Regions from separate parts of the Homo sapiens genome. Here region 2 is linked to region 1. Evidence: fine-mapped expression QTL. A gene starts in region 1. The other region holds a variant in brackets. All regions are shown on one strand. Distances are between the middles of the regions.

Region 1 (15,116 bases):
AGAGAAGAGCGTGGAGGGTCCAGACCGGATCTTTGGGACTTTTGATGCAAAATTTAAAAAAATAAGAGAGGAATAGAAATGACATAAGCCACATGGGTACATTCTAGGGAGAAAAGAATCAAAGCCAAGCTTTTCTTGCAAGAAGCAACTGAGAGTGGGGGCCATTGATGTGCTCAGGGGCATCAAGTGGGAGCAGGAGGACAGTCAGAGATAGAAAGAGAGAACGGGTGGGTGGGAGAGTGTGCTACTCTGGGGAAAGAGGGTGAGGGATCTTGGTTTTGTTGGATATTGGAGAAGATAAGATGAAAAACATTTTGATAAGAACTGCTCCAGCCTGGTGCTGTGACACACACCTATGATGCCAGCTACCTGGGAGGCTGAAGCAAGAGAATCCCATAAACGGGAGTTCGAGACTCACCTAGGCAACATAGCGAAACCCCATCTGAAAAAGAAGAAGAAAGAAGAAGAAGAAGAAGAAGAAGAAGAAGAAGAAGAAGAAGAAGAAGAAGAAGAAGAAGAAGAAGAGGAAGAAGAAGAGGAAGAAGAAGAGGAAGAAGAAGAAGAAGGAGAAGAAGAAGAAGAAGAAGAAGAAGAAGAAGAAGAAGAAGAAGAAGAAGAAGAAGAAGGGGAGGAGGAGGAGGAAGAGGAAGAGGAAGAAGAAGAAGAAGAAGATGAGGAGGAGGAGGAGGAGGAAGAGGAAGAGGAAGAAGAAGAAGAAGAACTGCTCTAGATTATATACTTGTATCTCATTTTTTAACAGTAGAATTACTATCAGGACTTTGCTTCTTTGAACTCTACCCACTCAGGCACTGAACAACGCAGACCTCAGCTTTGACAGGTTTACAAACACAATGACCCTGTTAATACAAAAGATGTATTAACATACAGCAGAGATTCTCAACGGGGCGGTGATTTATCTCCCAGAGGATATTTGGCAGTATCTGTAGACATTTTTGATAGTCACAACTGGAATATGCTGGTGGCATCTAGTGGATAGAGTCTAGGGTGCTGCTAAATGCCCTATAATGCACAGGACATTCCCCAACGAGAAAGAATTACCCATCCTAGCCAAAATGTCAGTAGTGCCACAGTTGGGAAACCCTGAAATAGAGAAATGGAGGAAGGGCAGTTGTTTCCTTACAGCTTCCCTTTCCAATGACAAAATAAAAGACAGCTTTGTTTCATTCGAAACACGTTCTCAAGTGTGTGATATTCATTCTTAATCAGCACTACATACATATAATAATCTCAGCCAAACCATATAAATCAGTTCCCTAAAACCCTTTAAGGTAAAAGAATTCCCATTGAAGAATTCCAGATCCTGTGGAAAAAACGGAGTTGAATAAAGAAGGCTCCAGAAAATTTTGGAAAATCTTTATAAATATTTGTATTTTCAATATGAAATATGAAAATATAATAAAACTAGCACAGCAAATAAAATAGCTATGACATGTAAGACATGCTTATTATGGGTAATCAGGTTACTCTCTATGCTTTGCTCATTCTGAGAGAATCCTCAGAATCTAGCTTATATTCCATCACGCCCCTTGAGAAAGTTTAGCTGAGGTGTTAGTACGTTTGTTTTGCCTCATTGCAGATAAGACATTCACTAAGAAGGATTATTTGGAGTTAAGGGTGCTGGGGACAGTGGTATATTTGGCCTTCCATACAGATGCTCTATAAATGCCTCTGGATTTTTATTTCAATCTCCTTGGCCCCTCTCTCCAACAGCCCTTCCCAGTTCTATCTCTGCACAGACAGCCCAAGAATTCAGTCCTAAGGACCCACCTTACATGGCTTAAAACAACAATACACAAACTAGATGTTTTACATTCTGGTGGCCATGTCGAGTAATTATTTGATAGGCCACGAGCTTTCATTTGTGGCTGTATATCCAAGTCAGTTTTCCAAAATTCAGTTATATGATTATAAAATAAGTACCAATGTCTTTAGAACTAGACAAAATACAATTTATTAAAATATTTTATCTTTATATATGTGATAAGGATTGAGGGGTTCACTCCCTCATTCCATCCCCAATCTTGCCCTCTTTTAGATGAAAGGCAGGAGGCAGTTGCCTAGGAGAGGGCAACCAATAGCCCTGGCCTAGGCAGGTCAATGCTGGCCTCTCTCCTTCCCTTGGACCCTCAACTGTGAGGGCTAGGATACCAGGCCGGGCTGTTCCTAAAGACTCTGAGCCCAAGCAGTGCAGCTGGGCCTAGAAATGGGGAGGTAACCCTTCTTGCCAACTTTGCTGAAAATGTGGAAGCCCCGCGGGTTCTGAAGGATAACGCTCTCGGCTTGGGCCTTGATAGTCTCATAGCAGGCATCATAAAGTGGTGAGGGTCCCTTTTTGTGACAGTGGCAGGGGGAGCCAGAGCAGGAGAGGAAGAATATAACAAATCCAGCAACCCCATCATGTTCCCCACACCCTACTCTGCCAATGTAACCCACTGGGCACTCCTGAAAATCAATAATTGGGAAGAGGTTTAATTATTTGGGCAGGTAGAAAGTGGAGACACAATAGAGAACTGCGGATTATTTATGTTAACAGGATTTCATTTGTAGCCACAGACTGACATGCTGCCTAGATATTTGGTCATAATAACAAGTATGAAAACACCTTGCAACTTTGAAATCAGTTTTCCCAGCTTCTACAACCACCCACAAAAAATTGTATCTAGCCTACGTTTAGAACACAGATTATGATCGATGAGCTTCTGCTCTCCTTGGCTGTCTCTGACAAAAATGAGCTGCTTGTGACAGACGCAGCCCCAGCCCAGTGTGAGGATTGGAAACCTCAGACCCTGACTCTTTCCCTTTCTCCTTCCTTATCTGACTCCTGAGCTATTATTGCCTTTTCTCTGCACCTAAGCTTTCTGCAAAGCCCAGACCCAGCCAGCTGGTTCTGTGGTCTGCTCTGATTTCCCTTGTGGATTTTAAATTCAGAATTCTAGGCTCATTTGTTAGCAGCTTCTCTGAACACATTATCTCATTTATTTGCTCATTCATTCATTCGTTCATTTATCAAACATTTAATAAGTGCCTTCTGTGTTCTTCTATATTTTCTATGCGCTAGGGAGGCAAAGACAAAACATTGTCCAGTCTTTGAGATGGTTTCAGACAGGTAAACAAACAGGAATAGTAAATGTGTTATGAGCACTACAATGATTATGTGTATTCTTATATACATGGTACATAATGGCCTAAAGGAAAAAGAGGCCAGTTCTGTGAGACAAAGTCAGGAGGTGAAGATTGGGCATTAAATGTATTGAAATATTTTCATTTGAACTTAGGCACTATTATTGGAAGATAAGTATGTTGATATGGTGAACAGAGTTGGCTGCCTACTCCATGTCTTACTGCTCCCCTTTCTGTGTCACAAGAAAACACTGGTTTGGTTCAGGCTTCAGGTCTCAAGTAGCAATGTACTTTGGGAAGGAGGGTTCATCCCCAGACCCAGGGGTATCAATGTTGCTTAGACTAAGAAAATTATATATTCCTTGTGATTGTAAATGAGCCTTAAGAAGATACCTCATGGTGGTGATTTACAGGAAAGCTACCTGGAAAAGCGTTCCTCCCTAATATTAGGTTGGTGCAAAAGTAACTATGATCTTGCCACTGAAAGTAATGAAAAAGACATTTTAGAAAAAAAAAAATACACCTTCCTGCCATTGGATGTTGAGATATTTGGAGGTACAGGAGCCATATTGTGACCATGAGGCAAAAGCCAAAAGAATTGCAAAGAAGCTAACCCAATAAAGTCCTGTTTATGAATGAATACAGAGTAGAAAATGAAACAAGTGAATGGCTGCACAACATTTCCAGTTTTCTTTTTACACTTATTGTTTTGTATGTTTTTATTTGTTTGGTTGGTTTTGAGTTTTGGGGGTTTTTGTTGTTTTTGTTTTTTGATTTGTTTTTTTAATAGATTTGGGGTCTCACTATGTTGCCCAGGCTCGTCTTGAACTCCTGGGCTCAAGTGATCCACCCAACTCGGCCTCTGAAAGTTCTGGGATTATAGGCATGAGTCACCATGCCCAGCCTACACCCATTGTTTTGTTTTATCACTAAAATGACAAGAATGCACTGCAGATGGAATGGATATGGCAAAATAGTTCAAAAGGAGGGGGATTGAGAAATAACTGAAGTCACACTGACCTAAGGGCATCAGCTGTATTGTGCTCAGATATTCAGGCCTTTAAAGTTCTCTTGCAAGAGGTGACAGAATTTGAAAAAAAAAAAATTCTATTTTTAGAGACAGGGTCTCTCTCTGTCACCCAGGCTGGAGTGCACTGGGATGATCATAGCTCACTGCAGCCTCAAATTCCTGAGCTCAAACAATCCTCCCACCTCAGCCTCCTGATTAGCTAGGAGTACAGGCAGGCACGTGCCACCATGCCCAGCTAATTTATTTATTTATATTTGTAGAGACAGAGTCTCACGGTGTTGCCCAGGCTGCTCCTGAACTCCTAGCCTCAGGTGATCCTCCTGTCAAAGTTGGTATTACAACCGACTGTTGGATTACAGGCATGAGCCATCACATCTGGCCTTGAAAATATTTGTACCGAAGGAGTTGGAGGTTTTAAGGTAAAAATTTGTCCACATTTTTGTCCACACAGCCTTGTCAATGGCCTTATTTGGTCTTCAAATGAAATGTTGAAAGTATGTTTTCTGAACATTTAAGGTCTCTCCTCACCTCCTACCACTCCAATTTTATTTTTTAAAATGCCAGTTGGATTTAGAGATTTTTTTTTAATAATGTAATTAGTGCATAATGCTTAACATCAAACAGTACTCTGATGGGGCAAATGGGGAAACCAAGTCATCAATGATCAAAGGAACTTGCTTTCCCACCAGTCCGGCAGAAACAGTTCTGTCTCATGAGTGTCCAGCCCTATGAAAATGATCTACATTTAAATATTAAAAAGAAAGCACATTTCTCTTCCTCCTACTCGCCAGAAAAAATGTAATAAATAACTCAAGGCCAGGAGACAACCCCTTACAATGCCATGTTATAGGTTGGTGGGTGCTGATTCAAAAATATGCCGTAACAGACAAGTTATGGAATTAGTTTCTAGCTGCAGGTTATAGTCTTCTTATTAAGAGACAATGTAGTTTTCCTACATCATCTGCCATAAAGCAAGCCAATGTATGGGTTGAAATGACTGAATGAGTTTAAAACTGGTGAAGAAATAGGAAAAGACATAGTAGTGAATGGTTGCTCATCAGAACGAAGAGTGGTAGGGATAGAAGGGATGGCCTTTAAACACATTCATTAATAATTTGAGGAAGGAAGTGAAGTTCAAGTTTGTGATGATGCAATATTGTTCCAGTTACTAAACATCATGAAGAAAAGAGAGGAACTCTAGATGAATTTAAAACATAATGCAAGGGCAATAAGGGGAATGAGATGTAACAGCCTTCTCGTAATTATACTGTATGTCTTGTTAGTCTTTAGAAAACTTTATTTTCGGCCGGGCGCGGTGGCTCACGCCTGTAATCCCAGCACTTTAGGAGGCTGAGGCTGGTGGATCACGAGGTCAGGAGATCAAGACCACAGTGAAACCACGTCTCTACTAAAAACACAAAAAAAATTAGCCGGGCGCAGTGGCGGGCGCCTGTAGTCCCAGCTACTAGGAAGGCTGAGGCAGGAGGATGGCATGAACCCGGGAGGCGGAGCTTGCAGTGAGCCGAGATCGCGCCACTGCATTCCAGCCTGGGCAACAGAGCAAGACTCCATCTTAAAAAAAAAAAAAAGAAAAGAAAGAAAGAAAGAAAACTTTATTTTCCAAATATTTTATATTAAGGAAACATTGACATTACCCAAGATCTCTTCAAAGTAGGCAAGTATCAGTAAAAACAGAATAATTAGAAGTGACTTCGGATGAAAAAGCAATGGAGTTTGGGGATTTTAGTGAAACGGTATAAGTCCGAAATCTGCAAAAGGAAGACTGTCTGGAAGAACAAAAAAGTGGAGTGTCCCTTTATGTAAAATTGTTTTCATACCTTTAGTGACCATTTAGTAACAGAGTTATGCACTTGGGGTTAAGCTAGTGAAAAGGAAGGGAAGTTAGAAGATTTTGACACTAATGGACAAAGATATTGATACTTTGTCCATTGGATACGTTTGTCCATTGGATACATTTGTCCATTTGTACATTGATACTTTATCCATGGATACATTTGTCCAAAGGTTCAAATAATTTCTCTGTTTATTGGAGAAAGAAATAGATGGATGAGGCATCGCTTGGCCAAGCAGGAGGAAGGCCAGAATCAGGCTGGTGAGAAAAGGGGCTCAGTGTGGCTGGAGATCAGAGGAGTCAGGTACGCTGGATCCAGTTCCAACTCTTGGCTGAAGAATTTGAACTTTAGTCATTTCTAGCATTGTTCATTACCTGTAGTGTGCTCTTGCTAGCTGGCTGAAGGGATAAATGAAGCCACTGATGTCCTCTTGAGCAGGCAACTGATAAGCTCCATTTTTTTTGTTAGGAAAGTTAATTTAAGTGGTATGTAGGAGGAATGAGAGGGATGGGGGACTTATTACCAGAGTTCCAGTCAAAAGCATGAGGTCAGTTACTGAGGTAATCCTACTACGTGCTCAGCATTCCACTAGACACTTAACACCCTGCTCCCAATACTTATTTAATCTTAATAACAACCCTTCAAAGAAGAAAGTTTAGCATTTCCACTTTACTGTTAAAGAAACAGGTTCAACCGGGCGCAGTGGCTTACACCCAGCACTTTGGGAGGCTGACGCGGATGGATCACTTGAGCCCAGAAGTTCAAGACCAGCCTGGGCAACATGGCAAAACCCCATCTCTACCAAAAATACAAAAATTAACTGGACATGGTGGCGCGCACCTGTAGTCCCAGCTACTTAGGAGGCTGACATGGGAGGATAGCTTGAGCCCAGGAAGTTGAAGCTGCAGTGAGCTGAGATCGTGCCACTGCACTCCAGCCTAGGCAACAGAGCAAGACTGTCAAAAAAAAAAAGAAAGAAAGAAAGAGAAGAAACAGAAACAGGTTTAGGAAGGTTGAGTAACTTGCCCAAATGTAAAAGGGGTAGAAACAGGCTCTATGTCTGATTCTAAAAAGGGATGCCTTTAAAAATAAGGGGGAAAAAACCCTGTAACACGTTGATACTCTTTAAATGAGAATAATTTTAACAAGGGCAATGACAGAGAATGGAAAGGAAGGAAGAGATTTCAGCAGAGTCAGAAGGATGTGGCAACTGAAAACAGCATTGGGACAAGGGATAAGAAAAAGTCAAAGTTTCTGGCCTGAGTAACAGTATAAGATGTGAACTCAGATTTGGAAAGGGAGACAGGAAATTAAGTTTTGGACTTATGTTTGAAATGACAGCAAAACATTCATATAAGAGGAAGTGGTTCACTTTATCCAACAAGTGTAAAGATCACATGGGGAAATAGAAGTCACCTGCAACACAGGCAGAACTGGAAGCTTCGCTGGCCAGGTCCATGTTAAACTCTGACCATTCTCTGGGGCTGTCCAGCCTTTGCACAGGCGGCGCGTTTGTCTTCAGTTTTCAGGTTTCCCCGTCCTATTTCTTATCTCCCAGTGCCTCTGGCCTTTTCTGTGTCTCCCTCCAGAATGAGCTGGAGCTCTCTTCATCTTGACCTTTGTGTAGTCTCTGAGGTCTGAGGCCATCACTATGTCTGACCCTCAAAAAATATTTGTTGACTGACTGGCTTATTCCTGTTGTTGCCCTGGAAAAGAATTACCCTGCCCGATTAAGTCACAGTTTCTTCCTTCTTAGGGCAGCGTAGTTAACAACCTCAACACCAGGAAATTGTCTTCCTCATCACATACCAGGGTATTATTCATGCAGTTTACTCACTGTAAAGAGTTCCCTTGAAATAAAGCTAACAATTAGTCAAAGATTTACACATTTCCTAGGGTCAGTCAACTTTTTAACAAAGCCAACTTTTAGTAGTGGTGGCGGTGGCGGGGGGGAGCCCTTCTTTGCTTTTTCTGTTCCTGAAATACAAAAGTGATGGTAAATGCTTCAGAATTTCTCTATGAGAGGGTCTCAGGCACTGCACTCACGCTGGAGTTGGGGGTGGCTGGTCCTTTTCTTGAACCAGGTTTTGCAGAGAATTGGTCCTAGTAAAGAGTATTTGTGTGGGAGGAGTTTGGCTTGCTGGCGGGGAGTATTTGGATAATACTGGAAGAGCCTCAAATGCATCTCTTGCCTCCTTTTGAATAAGATACTTTTGAGGTCCACCCACCTGCCAAATTCCATTCTATTTTCTTCCCACAGGGAGTTTCCCTGATTGGGAAGGGCCTGTATTTCCCGCGAGCGTTAGGAGATGTGCAGGTCTATTCATTGGGGGAGCCCAATTCCCGGGAGGATTTAGGGATCACGGGAGGGCCGGGGCGTTCTCCTGGTGGGGATTTTAAGGCCGCTCAGAGCCACGACTGGGAGCTACCCTTAGCCAGCGCCCCAAGCCGGGAGTACGGTTCTCTGCAGGGTAGCCCGGCTCGGGGGTGGCGAAGGCGGTGAATGGAGACCCGGGGGGGGCGGGGGCGGGGCCGCGGCGGGCGGGGCGGGGCGGGGCGAGTCGGGCCGAGGCCCGGGGGCGGGGCCAGGCGCGCGGCTGGCCTGGGCCTAGGCCGCTGCTGGGCTCCGCCTCGCCCGGCTACGCAGGCGGCAGGGCTGCGGCACGGGCCGGGCGGCACCATGGCGGCGGCGGCGCCTGCTGCTGCGGCGGCTTCTTCCGAGGCGCCAGCGGCGAGTGCGACTGCAGAGCCCGAGGCCGGGGACCAGGACAGTCGCGAGGTTCGAGTGTTGCAGAGCCTGCGGGGCAAGATCTGTAAGCGGGGGCTGGGCTGAGGGGACGCCCTGGCGGCGCTGGGCGCGAGGCTGAGGGGGCGGCGGGTTCGCGGCGGTGGCGGCGCCGAGCTGCGCTGGGATCGCGGGCCCGGGAGGGGGCCTGGGCCGGGCGCGGTTGAGGCTGGAAGGGGGTGTGTTGGGGGGCGGCGTCGCCTCGACGGGGCGGCGTGGGCCGGGGCTGCTGCTCTCCGGAGGGAGTGGGAGCTGGAGATGGGCCTGGGGTGGGAGAGCCCGGGCTGCGCCGGCGTGAGGGGCTCGGTCGTGGGGAGCGGCCTGGACGCGGGGACGCTGGAGTCCGGGGCGCGGCCGGGGGCGCGGTCCGGGGGCGTGAGGAGCTTCCGGCCGCCCTCAGACTCAGGCCTTCGCGCGGCTGCGGGCGCTGGGGAGTGGCCCCGCGGTGGGAGCCGAGCAGTAATTATACGGAGGCGCGGCCCGAGGAGGTGGCGGGCTGGGAAGTGGGGCTGGCCCGAGGGGAGGGGGCTGTTCGTTTCCTGGGCTCGGCGAGCCTGGGAGAGGTTGAAAAAGGCGCCCTGAGCTGCAGGAAACGGGCCGCCCTGGGGCCCGAGTGGCTACCGCGCGGTCTGTTCGCGGGTGAGCGCCCCGGGAGGAGCTCGGCGGGACACCTGTACTTGCCCCACCTCGCTGCGGCCGGGACTTGAATCGAGGGACGGCGTGACAGGCGGGACTAAAGGCAGGATGTAGTGGCTTCCTGTGAGCAGGTCTCAAAACACAATCACCCAGCCCGCACTCAGCCCGCTTAATTCCCTTCCTTCTCATGCGTGTAATTGCTACTTTAGTGAGCGAGCCTACCAGTTGACTAAATACGAAATTTTGCTCAGAGTTGTCCGAGCATTACTGTGGACAGATTATTTGAGTTCTGTCATTTGAACATTTTAGTTTTAAAAACGACCCTTTGGTGTCAGGTTGCCATTTTTTTTTTCACAGTGGTTTATTTAGATGAAGTGCTTTTTGTTTTCTGTTTGTAAGAGAGATCAATAACATTTATTTTTGCATTTGTCGAAAATTAGCATTATTTTCTTCATGCAGTATTCTCAGATTGGAAACATGCTTCATGTTTCTTATAAATAACCCTCAATTATGAGGGCGTACTTTTCACTTTGAAGAAAATTGACTTGCATTAAAGTGGCTAACAATTCTTTCCTGGGCAGGATGTAAAATTTTCCTCTCCTCTAATACCAGTACTGTTGAGCTCACATTCTCCCACTTTTCCTCTTTTCAGGTGGTTCACGTATTTGGGATTTTATGAAACCTCAGAAGCAGACATGTTAACTTTTCTTATCTTTTTATTCCCTGAGGTAGTCCTGGGGCTCTTAAGAGATTACAGTTCTTAAAACCTGGAAAGTGACACCAGAGAGGTAGATCTTAGTTCCCAAAATTAAAGTTACTTTCTAGGGCATAAAACCTTTTCAGAATTCAGATTAAATTTTATTTATTTTTTCTTTTTTCTGTAACCTTATATTTGAGGGGAAAATTTTGTTTTCAACTTTTGCATATATCTAATTTAACATTTGGGAAAACTGTAAATGGGCCAAAGTTTCTCCCTTTATATGATTTTCCAGATTTTTACCACTTTCTTAGTGCCACTTGATGCTAGGCATTGTCTATTGGAGACTCACTGGTACGTAACTGCAGGTTTTACCATGGAACTACATATACACATGTCTTGGAATTGAGGGTTAGGGTTTCCAGAAGGACTTAGTTGTCCTGTGCTTTTGTCTGCCCCATGCCAAAGACCACTAAGAACAGTTTTGTAAGTGAAACTTGGGTCTACACGTTAAAAAAAAGAAAAACAAAAAACCACTTTGTTTCTATGGTTTAAAGCAACCCTGGCTTGGAAATTGATCATCCAGCTGCTGGGAATGATATTACTGCTTTAACCACAGTTGAAGTATTCTATCTGTTATCCTAGTCAGTTTCTTGCTTTTTAAATTGCTTATCTTATAGCTCAGGTTATGGAGTGTCTGCTTTCTAGAAAAAAAAAATGTATTTGTATACTTATATACAGAAGCTCTCTTCCCATTTCTTTGTCCTCCTTTTAAATGATGTAATCCACAGTTGGTTGACATTCAGAACCTTGTGAAGAGATGCTGTTTTCTGTTTCCCTGAAACTAACATGTGGGTTTTGTAGGGTGGGGACTGAGGGGTTGGAAGAGTCATTAGCAGGTGTCAAGGTCACAGAAATGAGATGGTGGTGGTTCTGACAAGATATTAAGCAGCTTGGGGAGGGTGTAACCGTGTCAGCTTTTCTCTTCACCACAGTAGGAAACCTTGGAAGAAAGCCTGATAGTGCCCACTAGGAGATGTGCTGGCAGATTTTATACTACTGATTGAGAGCCTCTTTTCTGGAGAGTTAGAGATCTGTAGGGGCTGAAAATTAGCCTGAAGAAATTTTCTTATTTCTGGACTTGCATAGGACTTTTAAACTGCACATCACCCCAGTGAAAAGTGAGGATGGATTGGTTTATGTATCTTGAATGTTCAAGAGATAATAGTCCATAACCTTCTTTAGGGATTTCATTCCTGTAATTATTTCCCCTTATACTTCACAAGGTGAAATATCTGTCAGTTGGACAGATATTTGTCTATTGGACAAGAGGAAACTTAACAAAAAGTGGTAACCAAAAAGGTGGAGGTCACAAAATAACAACATGAGACCTCAATATATATAAAGGATGAAGCCCCAATACCCCTTTTTTGCTTGAGTGTACTTTTTTTTTTTTTTTTGCCGGGGGGCTGGGGAGGAGGGAAGAAGGGACATGCAAATATGTTTCAGGTGTTTTATATGCGCTCAAACGAACCCAGGGAATTCGAGATCCATCTATAAGACAAAATATTGTCAGCAACCCTGGATTTGCTGCAGTTTGCGCTAGGAAACCATGACAGTTCTGAATTGTCTGCTTCCTTAAACTTTTTCAAGAGGTGAGTTTGGTTGTTTGATATCCTAAGGTTGTCATATGAACCCTTGATAAAGGAAATTAGGGGTGTACTCGACTCCATTCTTCGGTCTGCACTCCTGTGTAGCGAGTAGCAAGTATGCTAGAACACCTGAAACACATTTGCATGCTCCCTCCTCCCCTCAAAAAAAAAAAAAAAAAAAAAACCGTATTCAAACAGAAAAGAGGGATTGGGGCTTCCTCCTTTATGTATCTTCAGGCTTCATGCTGTTATTTGGTGACCTCCTTTTTGATTAGCACTTGTTAAGTTTCCTCTTATCCAATTACATTAGATTGTAAAAATGTTGCGGAGAGCACCCATGCCACCATATGTGTGGGCTTATCTACTCAAGGAATACCAGATCAATAAGAGAGCCAAATGGGAAAATTTTGTGTGAATTTTCAGATGTGTGGTACAGTGCGAGATCTGTGGGACTATGTGTTCCAAAACTCACTTAGTTTCTCTGGTGTCTTCAGACCAAGAATAGCCTAGGGTTATTTGACAGAGTAGGGAAGATCTATAGGGTATGGTTAAGTGCTTGAGCTTAGAGGCTGGGTGAAAAAGTTAGTTACCTGGGTTTGAATCTTCACCTAATTTCCAACTTTTGTTAATGTCTTTGGGCCTTCATATTCTCATATATAAAATGGGGATAGTAAAAATACCTATCTCACGGGTTGTTATGAGGTTTAAATAAGCCTCCCTCCCTACTCTGCCCCTCCTCATCTCTGCCTGCTCTTTCTCACTCCCCAGGATCTGGGTCATACACCGACCATCTCTTAGGAAGGAGTAAAGTAGGAGATAAAAACTAATCTTCATCTGATGTTCTTGTCCAATGTATACTGGAGTTTCCAGGTGTACAAAGCTGATTAAAATCTGAAGACCTATATTCTTCTTTAAACGTTGTTAATTAATCTTCATATGGCGTTAGCCAGCTCACTTATCTTGAAGCTTACCTTCCGCATCTTTTAAATGGGAATGATGCTTTTCCACTATCCATTGTATACAGGTTGTTCCCTCTGCTTGGGATTGTCTTTCTTCTTTACTCCACCCCATCTTTATGTCAGGAAGCTCCTACTCATCCCTCAAAAGCCTGCTCTATGTGATCTCCTTCCCAAAACCTTCTGAGACACTTCCAGTGCCATCTCTGGCCAGCATCTCTGCTGCTGGGGAACACAATTCCTTGCTCATTTCCTTATTATAGCACATTTCATAGAAATCATTTGTTCACTTCTCCTGTTAGATTGTGAGCTCTTTCAAGATAGAATTGATTCTTGTTCATTTTTAAAAAATCATCCCAGTGTCAGCACAATGCCTAGAACAGAATAGGCCTTTAGAATATGCCCTACCTCACAATGTTATCCTGTGGATAATTACTAGATATGAAAGTATTTTATAAATTATATACCTAAAAAAACTAGAAGGTGTTAGTATTAAGAGAAAACTGTATGAGTCTGCATCAGGAAGTTCATCCCTTTCAAAATCACAGTGCCCACTAAGCTTAGGTTTGAATTGATGCCAAAGTTGCCTTGTTAGGAAAAAGATTAAATTTTTCTTAATGCTCTGATTACTTATTATTAGGGCATTTGAATATTGTTACTAATTGGTCCTGGAGCTTGGAAAAGAAAATCTCATATTCATACTTTACACATTAAGTGTTTTAATTTGACATGACAGGTTTGAATAAAACCGTCTATTTAATTCTGTGAAGTATAAATCAAAACATTTTATTGACTATCCAGTAAAGTTGAGTGGAAGAGATTAAAAAGGGTGTATTCATGCTAAGAGTTCATTTTTATCAGATATTTGAAATGAGATGATGAGTTATTTAGGATGGAGGAAGAATCCATCTTTCAGATGGATAGAAACTGGGGAGAAAAGGGTTCTTTGTAAAAGTTCACAGAGCAGTCTGCTAATCATTTGCTCTGTGGAAGACGGGAGGTAAACCTCAGTGAGTTCATAGAGTTGTTTTTTTAAAACTTAGAACTCTTTGAATAGATCCTTAAGTGACTAATATAGCCAGAATAAAACCATCATTTTATCCTTTAATCATAGCTGCTAATCCTATTTCCTTGTTAATGTGCTTTATGAAATTATTTGACAATAATATCAGATTACATGTTTTTGCTACTAATAAAGTTCTATTCTCTTTTGAGAACTGCAAACAAAATGTTGTATAGTCATATATTCATGTAAGTTAAGCTTTTTATGTGTATTAAGACATTTTTATGGCATCTCTTTAGGTTTGTATGTAATTTTAGTTATCAAAAACCCCTATCTAAAGTGATAAACATTAAAAGTTTGTATCAGTACACATACAGAGAACCATAAATGACAAATTTGTTTTCCTGTCATTAATGACAATGACTTTGGGCAAATTCTTTAACCTTGCTGAGCCCGTATTTCCTTACTTGTAAAATTAGAGGTTTGGATATGGTCTTTAACATCCCTTCTACCATTTTGATTATTGCTTTTTAACTTGAACCATTTGCTTTAAGGCAGTACATCAGATGCTTTATTTTAGTGTTTAAATGTATTTAGTACACTTGTTTTGCATGATTCACTGTTTTAAAAATATTTAAGATTTATTAGATAAGAGCGTTTGAATTCTAAATTTTTTTTCTGTGACTGTTAATTAATTCAGCAGCACGTAATACATATCGAAGGGTCTGTTAAGAGACGCTAACCCACTGGACTGAAATGGGCCTAAGCTGTGAATCGGATGAAAGATCCTATTTTATCCTAAAGTCTATACTAAGCAATAGCTGTTTTTAGACATCTGTATTCTTAGACAATTATAGAAATTTAAAGCTGGAAGGTAGAGAACATGAAGGTAGAGAAAATAAAGGTTCTTACCCTTCATTTTACAAATGAAGAATCTAACAGAGACAGCAAGTGTCACACAGTTGATGGCCTGTTCGGCACTAGTCCACTATTATCAAAGTTCTTTCTAGAATGCTATATGAGATTAACTTATTACTATGAATGTTGCAAATGTACTACATTTAATACACAGAGATTATACTACTTATCTGTTTATATATTGAGAGGTGGTAAGATTTTCACTGTGCCGTCTACACACTCTTAACTGTTCCTTCTTAAGAACTTTGTGAAGTGGTTAGGATTAGTGATGAAACTATGGTTATGACCTAGGTGGAGATTGAACCTGGATGTTTAGTTACTTGTGCCATGGTCTACCTCAGCTATTTTCAGTTCTGACTGTCTGTCACCATCACCTGTGAACTAAAAAAATTATGATGCCCAGACTGTACCCCAGACCTACTAAGTCAGAATTTCTGGTTTCAAA
Region 2 (15,116 bases), 130 kb after region 1:
ATGTCATCTGCCTCCACATTGTATTTAATATTTAATAATTGAAATTAATTGTTTGGGAATCCTGGTATTGATGTATTACTAGAGAATTTAAAGCCCAAGATTCCCTTCATACCTGTGTGACCAAATCCATGTTTCTGCAACTTCTTTTTAATCGAAAGAATCTTCCTAGAAAAGCTTTGTAACAAAGGGAGAACTCCTCCGTAGCAAGAAACCATCTCTTCTTGTAACACTCTGTTCTGTGGACTTGTTTTCACTACCATCAGTGCCTGCTCTATACTGCCAACATTGTGTTTTACTAGAAAATTCCAATTCATGACAGTTCAGAGCTTTTCATTTAGTTCATGTAGACCCTCCCACTTTAAAAAAGAAAAAAAATAAGAAGTGTTTTTCCTTTGGTCCATCAGTCATTACAGGTTCCATTCAAGACAGTGATAGAAACTTTAGAAAACTGCCAGAGCATACTTGAAAGTTGGTAGATCCTTTTGCCTAAAGATGTAAACAAAACTCAAGACAGAAGGAATCAGGGAATATGTGCTATTGTGTGCATCTTGTTTACATTTGGGATCAGTGATGGCAAAAGAAGTAATGAGACCACTGAAATTGTTTTCATTGTTTTAAATACCAGGTACTCATTTTCTTGATTTGAAAGTTTAACATGACTTCTAAGGACATCTCTTCAAAAAGAAAGTAAACAGGGAATGAAGGTGGTGGGAAAATCACTTCACTTCACCCACTATTTCATGTTGTAATAAGGGCCACCATAAGGATGCCCTCCTCATAGTGTTCGGTTCTGATCTTCCTCGAGAACAGTCACTTGGCGCACTTTAATAATCTGGACTGCTCCAGATTTGACTTTAGATACTCCATGGTATCTAGTCTTTATGATCAGTTGAATGATCAGTGTTTAAGTCTAAAAATAATGCTTTCCTGAAAATGTTTATATTTCATTGCTGTTTCCTTATTGCCTGCTAGCCAAATGGAATTTGGGCAAGCAACTCTTTGAAGACTTTTTTACCCTAGAAATTTACTTTTGTCCTAAAAACCCTAACTGTAAATAAGCAGTCGAAGCAAGTTGCCACCTTGAAGTTGAGGGATACACTTTGCTTCATCAGTATTAAAAACCATGGTACTCTTATTTTGTCTTTTTTAATTCAAAACATTTTCTAAATGTGGTACTTTGAACCTTGGAGTATTTACATGTTTCTGTTCAAAACTGTGACTTATTAATGTAAGTCTGCTAGTAGTACTTTTTTTGTCTGAGCATAAGCTATATTTCAAGATATACTTTGCCAATTTTGTTATTGGTGGGTAATCATTTTTAAATTATATTGTTATTAGGTAATTATTTTTAAAGACTACTGGCATACAATCAAAGTTGTTCCATAAAAGAATATAACTGAGCAATGTATTTCTCTAAATGACTTGTAAAAATCAATGAATTATGTTTAAGTCTGCATTATGGTAGGTTATTACTCCCAGCTCATTTTAAAGACAAGTTTGAAAGAGTCCTTTAAATTTTATAAGCTTGTAGATTCCATAAACTACACTGATTTATACATTTGAAAGAATTTAGCCATTTAATAAATTTCTTATTCTCAAATTGCATTTAGATTAAAATTCCTTTTAAGAGTGTCTGAAATGTCTGCCTGCGAAGAACATGTAAACATTGCCAGATACCAGTCATTATTCTTTAGTGGCTTTTTAGTCCTCTGCTTTTTTTTTTAAGGCAAAAGAAATATGCATCTAGCATTTCTAATACCAAATCCCCAATTGTGATTGTTTTAAAGATCATGGTATGATCACAGGGACCAAGGCTGTGTGCATATATAACTCTGGATTTGAAAGGAGGAGAGTTCAGCCATCTAGTTCTTTTCTTCACATGACACTTTTAAACAGCCAGTTTGACTGGAATTAACCAACTTGGCACAGCCTAAAAAAGGAGTAATGTGAAATTAAATTATTTTTCTTTGAAAGTCTTTTGAAATAAGAGACCATGTAAGTAGGACCCTAAGACAACCAAGGAATTTGCTTCCAGGGCCCTCATTCCTCTGCTGTTACTTACAAATGTTTTAATTTTTACTACCTGATATTCTTTCTCTACCTTTTCCACATTTGAAAATATACAAGGCAGCTCACTTCATCCTAAAAACCTAAAAACTCCAGGAAGGAAAGAAAAGGATGATATGGGGAAATTTGCCATAAATGCCGGTTCTGGTTCTTAGTTTAGCCATTTCCATCAGTTGAAATTGTGGTGTGATCTGTTGCTTGTTTCGTTGTTGTTTTGTTTTTGTGTAGCTTTGTTTTTTAATATTCATTTAATAAGATGATGGGCAATAGCAAACATTTTTACTCCCAGGAATATAATTTATCAAATTGAACTATTTTATTTGCCAAAGAAACTTGTTTTTAATATCACGGGTAATGGGTAAGTGTGAAAACTAGGCTTTTTTTTATGAAACAAAAAAAGGTGACGAATAATATGGCTTTTGTTTCTGTTTCTGAAGCCTGATTTCATTTATGCCAGGTTTTGAAAAACAGATCTTTTTCTTAAGTGAAAGCACCTTTAATTTGCTCTAACGGTACATCCTGTAAAGACAGAATTCTGCATAGCCTTTTAGGTGTTTTTACAGTATGTGAAAAATACAAGACTCATTCTAGAGTTAAATTACCAATCTTGGTTGATATTATCTGCTTCCATTTTTATTAATTTGGAAATTAATATGTTGCTAGTAAATATTGGTTTTTACAGTACCCAGTTTGAAAATGTAAGTTATCAAAACTTAATGTAGTGAATTTGTGTAACCATGTTGTATTGTTGAGAATGTATTTTTATTTAAATTTTATTTTCTTATCAAGAGTATTATAAAAATTAACTTTTGTAACTGTCGCTTGGAAATAACTCAAATAAATTACAAGAAGCCTGTCTGTTCTTTGTGAGACTGTATTTTCTTACTGATTTAGTAATTTCTTCTTAAAATTATTATACCTTTCCTATTAGTAAGGGAACTGTGGAAGTGAGAAGTCTCCAGTAAGAATGATGCAATCTGAAAAGTGTTCAGTTTTCTTGCACTTAACTAGGCTGATTTTTGATGGGTGTGTTCTTTTTTTTTTTTTTTTTTTTTTTTTTTTTTTTTTTTTTTTTTTGAGACGAAGTCTTGCTCTCCCCAGGCTGGAGTGCAGTGGCACAATCTCGGCTCACTGCAACCTCTGCTTCCTGGGTTCAAGCGATTCTCCTGCCTTAGCCTCCCGAATAGCTGGAACTTCAGGTGCGCACCACCACGCCCAGCTAGTTTTTGTATTTTTAGCAGAGATGGGGTTTCACCGTATTGGCCAGGATGGTCTCTATCTCTTGACCTTGTGATCTGCCCACTTCGGCCTCCCAAAGTGCTGGGATTACAGGCGTGAGCCACTGCGCCCAGCCTCTAATGGGCTGTGTTCTTACATGTTCATTCATTCAACAGACTTGTTTTGAGGACCCATGGTGTTCAAAACACCTTGCAGGCTCCTGTCATTCCCTAGAGCCATGTACAACTGTCATGGAGGAATATAATTCACTTGTGTCTAGATAAAGTTTAAAGCTGAGTTTTCCAGACTATGTTTGACTTTTTAAAGAAGAGTAGAAAGAAGAATTCTTTCAGAGCCTATGGTTACTCAGGCCCTGCACTGACCCGTGCAGATTAACCTACCCCATAGCTTGACCTTCAGTGCATCATCCTTCAGGATGTTAGAATTTGCCTGTGTTCTGCCATTTTGGTGAGATGCCTGGAGAATATAAAGTGACAGCACCAGAGACCAGGTTAGTGGGTATAACTTGTGCCCTCAACAAGAGAAGCCAGGATCCTCCCTGATTCGTGCCTGAACCCTTTTATAATAGCATCCCTGAAAAACCCTTCTATAAAACAAAGTCCCTGGGCTCCGGAGGAATTAAAGGTTAACAAAGTGCAAAGGATAGGGTTCTGAATCTCTATATTTATTGAAACATTAGAATTCCTGTCATACTAGCCCATGTATAGAATAGAACTTGTGAAAAGCATCAGATTTAGGGTTCTAGTCTACGATAGAAGTAAACTAGGCATTTAAGGGAGAGGGGACCATACTCCTATTTCAAATTGTATGATTCCAAAATGAGAGACACCTAGGGCCAGAGTCCCTTTATTACACAAGAATAAGAAACAAGACATACTTTGCCACTCCTGGTATATGTTTTTCTACTCCAGTGGCAAGTACTGAACTCCTCTGGAAACGTTTCAGAGAATAACCTGTCGTGGGTGCTGACCATATTTAAAGATCTTTGGTCTTAATTCTTCATACATACCTTCACCTGAGGTTTGCTCTTTTGTGGCCAAGAAGTTCATTCTTTGGCTTACCATTTTGCCATTTGACTTCACAGTTTGGGGACACCATTTGCCATCATATTTTGAGCTTATGCCTATTTTTTATATTGACAGCAGAGGTGTGACTTGTTTAATTAAAGTACTATTAAGATTTCATCGCTTTTCTGCCTTGTATTTCAAACCTTTTTGTTTTGTACTATTAGGCAAAGGCTTTGTGCTTTTTATTGATCTGCTTTTTGAGATGGAGTTCAGTCTTAGATACATAAATTTTACTCATCAAGAAAGAATTCTGTTGTCTAGAGCAGATAACATTGTTTTCCAAACTTAACATTTTTTTTCTCAACTCCATCCAGAACCAAGAAGACCACACTGCCTGCAGAGTTAAAGGAGCAACCATTATTTTAATGGTTCCCTGTGCACAATGAGGTAAATGATCCCTAGACAGACACCTCAGAATCTGCATCAGAATGTAGTTTTTTTGTTTTTGTTTTTGTTATTTGAGGTGGAGTCTCGCTCTGTCGCCCAGGCTGGAGTGCAGTGGTGGGATCTTGGCTCACGGCAACCTCCACCTCCCAGGTTCAAGCAATTCTCCTGCCTCAGCCTCCCGGATAGCTGAGATTACAGGTGCCCAACACCACGCCCGGCTAATTTTTGTATTTTTAGTAGAGACAGCGTTTCACCATGTTGGCCAGCTGGTCTCAAACTCCTGACCTCAGGTGATCCGCCCACTTCGGCCTCCCAAAGTGCTGGGATTAGAGGTGTGAGCCACCTTGCCCAGCCAGAATGTAGTTTGAAAGACATTATCAATATTATTTTACGTTTGGAAATGCAGAATGTCACCTAATTTTATAATACAAACTACCAAAAACAAAGGTCAACAAAATCATCACTGAGAGAGAGTCATAGATGAGGCCATAATTCTCACCTGGAGACCTTTGGGGCCTGAGGTTTTGGTGTTAATGTGGGACATTTGCTTTTAAAGCTTGGAAAACACAGGAATATAGGCTAAAGTAAATTCCAAATCTTGACCTAAAGTCTTAGTAATAAACTGCCATCAAAATTATGTGTCAGGAGTAAGAATACAGCAAAAATCACTGGTCCCTTACAGCTTGAACTCTGGGAAATTGAAGAAAAGTAAAATATGTCAGATGGTGGTATGGAGCAAAGTAATGTGCAGGAAAGAGACAGGGAGTGCTGAATAGGATGAGGGGTCAAGGAAGGAGATATTTTTCAACAAAGACCTGAAGAAGGTGGGGAAGGAAGTGATGTGGATAGGAAGCGAAGTGATGTGATATGAGGGGAAGATCCTCATAGGAAGAAGAAATAAAATTACACGGTATACTCAAGAACAGCAAGGGGATTGGTGTGGCTGAAGCAGGATGAGTGAGAGGGAATGGGAGACAGGAGACCTGGGTGATGGAGAGGTCAAGTGGCTCAATGACGTGATTCACTTACCTTTTTTGGATTGCTCTGACTGCTATGTTGAGAAACATCTCAAGGAGGCCATAGGAGGAAGAGGGGACAGGTAGGCCAGTACACTCATCAGGTGAGGGGTGATAGTGATAGCGAGTGCCATGGGTGATTGGAGTGGTCAGGTTCTGGTTATGTTTGATGGTAGAGCCAACAGGATTTACTGACAGGCAGAATGTGGAAGGAGTCTGGGAAGATCCAGTAGCCTAAGCAACTGGAAGAAAAGGGGTCATTCACTGAGATGGGAAAGACTATAGGAGGAGCAGGATTTTATGTGTTTTATCTATGTCCATGTTAATGACTCCTGGAAGCCAGGTCCACTTAAATCACTTAGTAGCAGCACGTATTTTATCTAGTTTTAGACATTTATCATAACTTCCTCACCAGATTGTAAATGACTCCAAGGATAGGGAAGGGCTTTTATTATACCCTACAACCCTTGCTCTTAGTTGCAAAAAGGCGCAATAAACATTCCATGAAGGAATAACTTACTGTGGCTAATGATGGAACAGCAATGTCTTGGCTGACAGTGATGACTCAACTAGAAACTACATTTATGATCTTGGTTAAATAACCTCTTTGGGTTTGTGTGTCTTTACACATGTAAGATTTTAAAGATTATATTGTCTAGAAAAAGCATCGGGCCCCTGCTACGCACTACACACCCTGCTAAACCCAGGGGCCCTAAGATGCTGCCCTCAAGCTGCTCTGGGTCAAGCTAGGGACTGGACCAGAGGGACCTGAGGATTTTTCACAAGTTCAATGCCCAGACAACCCCTAGGGCCCCTCCCACCCCCCAATTATTTGTGTAGATCATTCAATAATTCCTCCAGTGGACTCTTCCTGAGAGGATCTTCCCAGCCTTCCCCAAAAACTCCATGACAATGGACCAATTTAGTAGCATCTTTGACCCTATAGAATGTATTGTCATGCTTCCCCCAGAAGAGTCCTGGTCATTCCTGAGATTTTTGGCTTAACCGATGAAAGAGCCTGATGTGGGAAATGAACCCAGCACCCATTCCGCCAACGTGTATGGACAAAAAGCAGCCTTGACCGGGTGCGGTGGCTCACGCCTGTAATCCCAGCGCTTTGGGAAGCTGAGGCAGGCGGATCACTTGAGGTCAGGAGTTCGAGACCAGCCTGGTCAACATGGTGAAACCCCATCTGTACCAAAAAGTACAAAAATTAGCTGGGCATGGTGGCGCACACCTGTAATCCCAGCTACTCCGTAGGCTGAGGTGGGAGGACTGCTTGAATCCAGGAGGCAGAGGCTACAGTGAGCCAAGATTTTACCCCTGCACTCTAGCCTGGGTTGGACAGAGTAAGACCTTGTCTCCAAAAAAAAAGAA[G/A]AAAAAAGCAGCCTTATGACTCAAATAAGGAGTGGACTGACAGTTGCATTCTGTTGGCACAGAACACATCTTGGATGATAATGGCCCTTCCAGTGTGCGGCATAGATCCAGATATTCTCTCCTCTGGCTGGGCAGCCACTCGTCTACCCCTCCCACTGTTTACAGGGAACATGGAAAAAATTAAAACGTGTGGCCAGTAAGAGTGTAACCATCATTTGGAGACTCAGTTGGATTTTTCTGTGTGGTGGTTTGAAAGAAAACAAAACAAAAATGCTACATTTCAAAAACATTTGCAGCAAAAAATAAAGTAAATCATTATCTCAAGCTAATTTTTATAAGTAAATGCTCTATTTACTTGTATCTTGGAAAGTTTCAAAACATTTTATTTTATTTAAATGCTTAAGGGAATGTAGAGATTTGCTCAGTTATGAGATAGAAATGCTTAAATCTAATCACTCTATTTGAAACATTTTATCCACATATTGAGAAATATGTGAAAACTTTTACCAACAGACCACTAAAACATAGTAGGGAAGCAAATCATATCACCTGCGTACCCTAAATTCCTAAAGTCTATATAGCAGTCAGCGAAAGTGCCGACATTCAGTTAACCTTTGTTTTTCAGCCACCCTAACAACAGCGAGGGGTGGCGGGGAGGGGGATGGAGTTCACGTTTCCAGTCATAGTTCAAGAGGTGTTTTCTCAAACCAGACCCAGGCTTCCTACAATTTCCTGCAATTCCAATACAACCAGCCCCACAGGGCTGGGGGTGGGAGGAAGAGCTTGTCCTTTGGCCTCCTTTTCACTGGAACCCTTCACTTGTCATCTTAAGAAGACAAAATGGCCTGGAGGTGGGGGCTGTGGGGGCTCCTCAGGCACCAACAGCCATTTACAGAGCCTGGGAAGGCCCGGCCTGCACCAGCCTCAGACCCCACAACCCTCCTCAGGGCTTCCAGGGCCACCCTTAGGGCCACATAGGTGGGCTTAGAGGATCAGTGCTATCGTGCCCTCTGCTGAACTAGTGCACATAATAAATTCTAAATAAATGTTATTATTACTACGAGGCCTGAGACAGACACCCAATCTCATAAGAGGTGCCCAAAACATTTAGGTAGCCCTCCTTCAAACCCTTGATGCTCACTCAACCTGTGGGGGTTTTGACTGGGGGTCACACTTTGAGAGCCATTGGCTGCTCCATCTCTTCATGAGACTGGCTCTGCCTGTGACAAAGCAACACCTGGACCACCTTAGAACAGTGATTCTCAACCAGGGATGGTTTTTGCCCCCAGGGGACATTTGGCAGTATCTCAAAAAAAAATTTTTTTTTAAATTTTTGAGACAGTCTCGCTCTGTCGCCCAGGCTGGAGTGCAGTGGTGCAATCTTGGCTCACTGCAACTTCTGCCTGTGAGGTTCCAGTGATTCTCATGCCTCAGCTTCCCAAGTAGCTGCAACTACAGGCATGCCCCACCATGCCCGGCTAATTTTTGTGTGTATTTTTAGTAGGGGTTGAGGGGGTTCACTATGTTGGCCAGGCTGGTCTCGACCTCCTGACCTCACGTGATCCTCTCATCTTGGCCTCCCAAAGTGCTGGGATTACAGGCATGAGCCACCATGCCCAGCCTCAAAAAATTTTTGTTGGTCACAACTAGGAAATTGCTGTTGATATCTAGTGGGTAGAGGCCAGAGATGCTGCTAAGCATCCTACAAGGTACACAACAGACCCCAACCACAAAGAAGTGTCAGGTCCGAAATGTCACTAGTGCCTAGTGTATCCAACAGTTAAGAGCACACAGGCCTAAGGGACAGACCTGGTGCCACTGGCCAACTAAGCAGCCTTGGCCTTGTTCCCTAAGCTCTGCAAACCCCAGTCTCCAAGCATCAAATGGGAATGATAATGATATCTGACCTCAGAGTTGGTGTGTGGAACATAAACAGAGTCACACAGCTCAGGTCCTTGAGCACACAAGCAGGTGCTCAGTGAGTGTCAGGCTTTATTTTTGGGTAATCCAAAGCTGTCTGCAAGGGGAACTCCACTTTGCTCTGTCTGAGCTACAGAGACCTTGTTTTCACAGATCAGGGCATCATGACCCCAGGTTCTCCATTTGGCTGTGCCCCTGACTTCTCCTCTCTATTACCTTTGCTCAGTGCTAGGGATACTCATGCAAGCGTGCAGGTGGAAGCCTACCAGGGGCGAGAAGTACACAGAGAAATCTCCACCCTGCTGAAGAAAGCAGCAGCATTACCACGCAAGAGCTCCAGAGAAACCTCTTTTCTCAGAACTGCTGGCTCAGCGGAGCAAAGGTGACTTTGTGGGACTCTGTGTGGGTTGAACCAACCCTAACTAGGATATTAGGAGCCATGCTGGTCCCCTAGTAGGAGGCTCCAGGCCTAACAGTGGGGCCTCAGGAGGAGTGGCCTCCACACCACACCTGAGAGGAGGGAGGTGGGGAAGCTGCTGGGCCTAGGGGATGGACAGCTAAAGGGCTCCCTGAAGAGGAGAGATCAGAGCCCCGCCCGAGGCCCTGGTGGCCAGAAGGGCACAGAATGGGAGGCACGCCGTGATGATGACCCCAGGCCAGAAGGAGATTTCTTTTCTTTCTTTATTTTTATTTTTATTTTTATTTTTTGAGATGGAGCTTTGCTCTGTCACCCAGGCTGGAGTGCAGTGGCACCATCTCAGCTCACTGCAAACTTCTACATCCCAGGTTCAAGCGATTCTCCTGCCTCAGCCTCCTGAGTAGCTGGGACTACAGGCATGCACCACAATGCCAGGCTAATTTTTGTATTTTTAATAGAGACAGGGTGTCACTGATACACACAGGAGACAGGGAAATACTGGATAGAAGAGGGCAGTTCCCTGGCAAAGGCCCACCCTCAAGCCTGGAAACCTGCGGCCCTAAATGAGGACAGGCATTCCTGTTTTCGCCCCCAAAAGTTGCCTTTTGACCTGCCATGCTCCCCTATCCTGTACCCGTATAAACCCCAAACCCCAGGCTCCACAAGCAGATGAGATGAACAGAAGAGCAGAATGGCAGAATGGCCTGGCGGAGAGAAGAGGAGTGTGTGAACACGGAGAAGAGTTCGGCTGGGGACAGTTGGAGAGGAGATTGGCCACTGAATGGCCAAACTCGAGGGGAAGATCATCTTCCCACTCCATCCCCCTTTCAGCTCCCCATCCATGCCACTGAAAGCCACCTCCACCACTCAACAAAACCCCTGCATTCACCATCCTTCAAGTCCACATGCAACCTGATGCTTCCTGGATGCTGGACAAGGACCTGGGTACCAAGAGGGCACTGAAGTTGGTTAAAACTTGAGCCGTCCATGGACGGCAAGGCTAAAAGAGGGCACTGTAACATGCACCCACTTGGGCTTTGGGGGTCGCAGACACCCACCCCTGGGCGCTGCCCTGGGGCTGGAGCCCAGGGGTATTCGCCCCAGCTCCTGCACCTGCCCATCTGCTCCCCCTCCCATAAGGGGTTTGAATGCATATGGCAGCCAAACAGACGAGCCACACTCCTGTTGCACGTCCTGCGTGGAGGGGTCAGGGGACTCTCCCGTTTTCATCACCATGTTGCCCAGGCTGGTGTCAAACTACTGAACTCAAGCAATCCACCCACCTCAGCCTCCCAAAGCGCTGGGATTACAGGCGTGAGCCACCACCCTTGGCCTCCAGGAGGAAATTTTTACTGTGTCGAACCAAAAACTGCCTCCTGCAGGCCCTGTCCTTCCCCCAGCCCTCTGTCCCTCCACCCTGCCTCTTGAAGGCAGCCCCACCCAGTTCTGGAACCGTCCTGGGGGCAGAAAGGACTTCAGAAGCTCCCACCGCAGCAGCATGTGGGTTCCGCCTGGGCTAGGGTTAACAGATTTAGGAAATAAAACACAGGACACCCAGTTAAGTTTGAATTTCAGAGAAACAACAAATAATTTATTAGTCTAAGTATGTTCCATGCAGTACTTATGTATTGTATCTGGCAGCTGTCCTCTCTCCACACACACAGGACACAGTCCCTCGGGAAAAGGAGCCCCTGGGGAGAGGCGCTCTGCCCTTGGCCCGCCTGTGGCTGCTGGTTCTGAGGGGTGGAAGGTGCCTGTTGGGGGTGCGCCCCTGAGCTCTAAGCAGGATGCAGTCAGCTTATGAGGGACCATCTTCAAGTCTCCAGAAAGTCCTAAGTTCAAGGAAAGGATAAAACTCCAAGCAGGCCCAGGGTAGCCCCAACCTCCCTGTCCCATGGACCCCTCCTTCCTCCCTCCAGCAGGGCCTCCCCGCCCAGCCTCAGTAAGGACTTGGCCCCAAGAGGCCTCTCTCAGGTGACTCACTGGGCACCCGGCCTTTGCTCCATCGGTGGAATCGCACTGGTGCGGATGTGTCTCAGAGCCTGGAAGCTGGAGTCAGGGCCCTAGGCTCCTTTCCTTGCTGTCATGTCCCCTTAGACAAGTCCCTTGCTCACCCAGTCTCCACTCCTTTTGCTGGAAATTGGAGACTAAGGCCTCTGCCTCCCTCAGGAAGTGTGTAGTTGGTGGTAAAGGAGGACACCTGTGTTCGGGGCAGTCATTATTCTTTGGGGCCCTAAATCTAAGTCCATGCAAGGGTTCACCTCTACGGCCATCTGCTCTTTCCCATTTGAAAACGTAATAGCGTGAAGAGTAGCTTCGGGACAGGCTCCAGGGACCCTTTAAACTCTTCTCATAGAAAAGATGCGGCCAGGCGTGGTGGCTCATGCCTGTTATCCTAGCACTTTGGGAGGCCGAGGATGGTGGATCACCTGAGGTCAGGAGTTCGAGACCAGTCTGGCCAACATGGTGAAACCCTGTCTCTACTAAAAATACAAAAAAGTAGCTGGGTGCAGTGGCATGTGCCTATAATCCCAGCTGCTCTGGAGGCTGAGGCAGGAGAATCGCTTGAACCTGGGAGGTGGAGGTTGCAGTGAGCCAAGATTGTGCCACTGCACTCCAACCTGGGCTACAGAGGGAGACTTGGTCTCAATGAAAGAAAAAAGAAAAGAGAGGAGAGGGGAGAGGAGGGGAGGGGAGGGGAGGGAAGGGGAGAGGAGGGGGGCTCTACCCTGTATAGAAGGATTAGTCACACCTCATAGTAGAAAGGCCCCCTCCATTCCTTGCAGTTCAAAAACCCTCATTTTGAATCTTTTCACATTCCAATAATCATATTTGCAGAGCATCTTTGACTCTTTTTCAAATTCCCACATCATCTAAACTTTCATGGCCTTGGGGAGAGAACCTAGTCCACCCTTCTAGCCCCACCCGGCTCTGCCTCAGTGCACAATTCTGCCAGTATACAGCCCACCCACAGTCCAGATCACCAGGTGCAGGCAAGGTTCAGGTGCCAGACACTGGGGTCAAAGTGGACCAGAGTTCTAGAAGCAGGGATGCGAGCTAACGCAGAGGGCATTCATATGCATTTCATGAGCACTCTCTTACATAATCCTCACAACGGTCCTGACACCGAGGGAGATTCTGCTGCCCAGAGAGGGTAAGTGGCCATCCCAACAAGGAAGGTATGGCCCAGAGCAGTCCAACTCATCAGGCCAACGGGTGGAAGCCTGAGTGCAAGGCTTAGAAAACTTGAAGGCAGGCTAGCACATGCTCAGTGCCTCTGTGGGAGGCTCAGCTACCACTGAGGAGCAAGGGCAGAGGCACAGGATGCAATGGGGCCGCTGACCAGCCTCCGAATGCAGGGGCCCAGAAGGGAACCTGGAGGACCAGGAATGGGGGAAGCTGGATGAGGAAACAGGAAGCATCATGGCAGGCACCTGTGATGTCTAACCTGCAGCCCACCTCAAAGATGCCACATCTGACGCCAGACAGCCCAGGAGTGCGCCCCTCTCGGGTCTGAATGGGCCCAGCAGGAGGTGTGGAGGACAGCCACGTGAGACAGCAGGGGCCCAGCCAGAGCCCAGGGGGACAGGTGTATCACCGGCCCTGGAGCCCTGAAGTTCATCCCTCACATGCCCTGGTGAAATGCTTCCCAGCACCAGACCTAAGCTGGGCCCAGACACAGGGCACTGTGCCAGGATGGGCCCTGAGTCACCCCTGCCCTCCCAAGCTCAGAAGCCACCTCCACCCTCATTTCCCCACACTCTGCTCTGCTCCTTCCTCAGTGTAGACTCCTGACGAGCCCACTGTCCCTGCACCTCCAGGCCCAGGCCTCAGGCTTACTGGACACTTGTTTCTAACTCTCGTTCACTGACAGAGTTTTCTGCCCAGTCCTGCGGATCTGCCCACCCGGGACAGGCAAGGGGCCAAGGTCAGGCCTCAGACTCCCTCCTCTCTGTGGCTCAGTCCCAAAAACTGACTGGGCTCAGATACTTAAAACTTTAAGGACTTTCTCCCAATATTGTGGATGCTCTGTCCCAAGTTCAGACAGCCACAGAGAATCCAGGATAATCCTCTCCCAGCACAGTCATCCCAGGGAGTGACCACATCTGAGTACCTTCCAGGAAATTGTCAGGTACCAGGCAGATTCTTGACCCTTGAAACAACCCCTTCACCCAGAGCCTGGGAATCAGCCAGAGGGTCCTTTCTCACTCGCCCTCCTTAAACCCCCTATTGCAGTTCAATCCCTGGGAGATGGAGTGTTTCTTCTCAGGCTTCTGCAAATCGGTTTCCCATCTGAGAGTTAACATTTTAGGGAGCTTTGGAAAGAAAGAGAAACATTAGACCAGTGGCTCACCAAGTGTGGTCCCCAAGACTAGCAGCATCAGCATTACCTGGGCACCTGCTAGAAATGCATCTTTCCAGCCAGGCGCAGTGGCTCACACCTGTAATCTCAGCACTTTGGGAGGCTAAGGCAGGTGGATCACAAGGTCAAGAGATCGAGACTATCCTGGCCAACATGGTGAAACCTTGTCTCTACTAAAAATACAAAAAAAAATTAGCTAGGTGTGGTGGCACACGCCTGCAGTCCTAGCTATTCAGGAGGCTGAGGCAGGAGAATCACTTGAACCTGGGAGGCAGAGGTTGCAGTGAGCCGAGATCGCGCCACTGTGCTCCAACCTGGGTGACAGAGCCAGACTCTGTCAAAAAAAAAAAAAAAAAATAGAAATGCATCTTTGCAGGCCCCAGCACAGATGAGTCAGCCACTGCGGGGTGAGCCTGAGCCATCTGTTTCACAGGCCTTCCAGGTGATTCTGACGGTGACTCAAGTTGGAGAACCCCTGCTTTTAGCACCCTCCAAGCTGATCTGGAAAGGTGATCAGGTGCTGTAGACCTCCCTGACACCTGCTGCCAAAGGGAAATCGGCCGCCTGCCTCTGGAGGGCACAGGCAATTCCTGGAAGCACCGGGTCATCCTGCAAGCCTCCTCTGACTTACTGTAGGTGTTAACACTGAGGGGGAGCCCCGAGCTGAATCCAAGTGGCATGGAGCCACCCAAGATAAAAAATTAAAGTTCTCAAAATATTATTGTTGGGAGTACTTGGGAAGGCTCTAGTGTGGTGCCTTTTACACAAATATTGTGAATCACAATAACTGTGTTTATCTTCTTTTTCCTTCAGCAAATAAGGAAACATCTGTGGGGGTGCTGATATTTATTTATTTTTGAATGAGCATCATAATAGTGGAAATATTTTGTATGTGATTATAGAACCCTGGGGCTAAAGCACTGCCCCTGAGGAGGAGCGACGAGTTAATTGGTAAATAATGTAGACATTCTCTTCTAATTAAGAAGACTTAAACGATAAATCCTTGTTTTTTAGGTGACATCGCTTGGGGCATCTCTATAAAATGCAAGGTCAGCCCAGTGGGGAACGAAGGTAGTCCTAGCAGAGTGTGCCTGGCCCAACAATCTCAAATTATACTGCCTTTTCTGGACCTCAGTTTTCCCTTGTTTCTCTGCCTCCTGGAGGAGCTGAGAAACCAGGTGTAGCTCTCTGAACTCAAGCCTCTGATCTTGTCTGGAGCCAGCTCCTTAGGAAGAATCCATCAGTGCAGATCCCCACTGTGG

The links.
Region 2: its variant is fine-mapped to the expression of RASA2 in whole blood (TOPMed, PIP 0.98).

The regions. Positions count from the first base shown.
Region 1 is chr3:141,478,380-141,493,495 of GRCh38, forward strand. It overlaps RASA2 (RAS p21 protein activator 2), which reads left to right and starts at 8,648. Exons shown (of 24, transcript NM_006506.5): 1 at 8,648-8,837. The coding sequence starts at 8,705. RefSeq lists a silencer at 8,557-9,436.
Region 2 is chr3:141,612,420-141,627,535 of GRCh38, forward strand. RASA2 (RAS p21 protein activator 2) reads left to right here. Exons shown (of 24, transcript NM_006506.5): 24 at 1-2,925. Among named protein-coding and RNA genes, the nearest start is that of RASA2-IT1, 95 kb to the left of the region's middle. The variant G/A (reference allele first, on the strand shown) is at 7,154.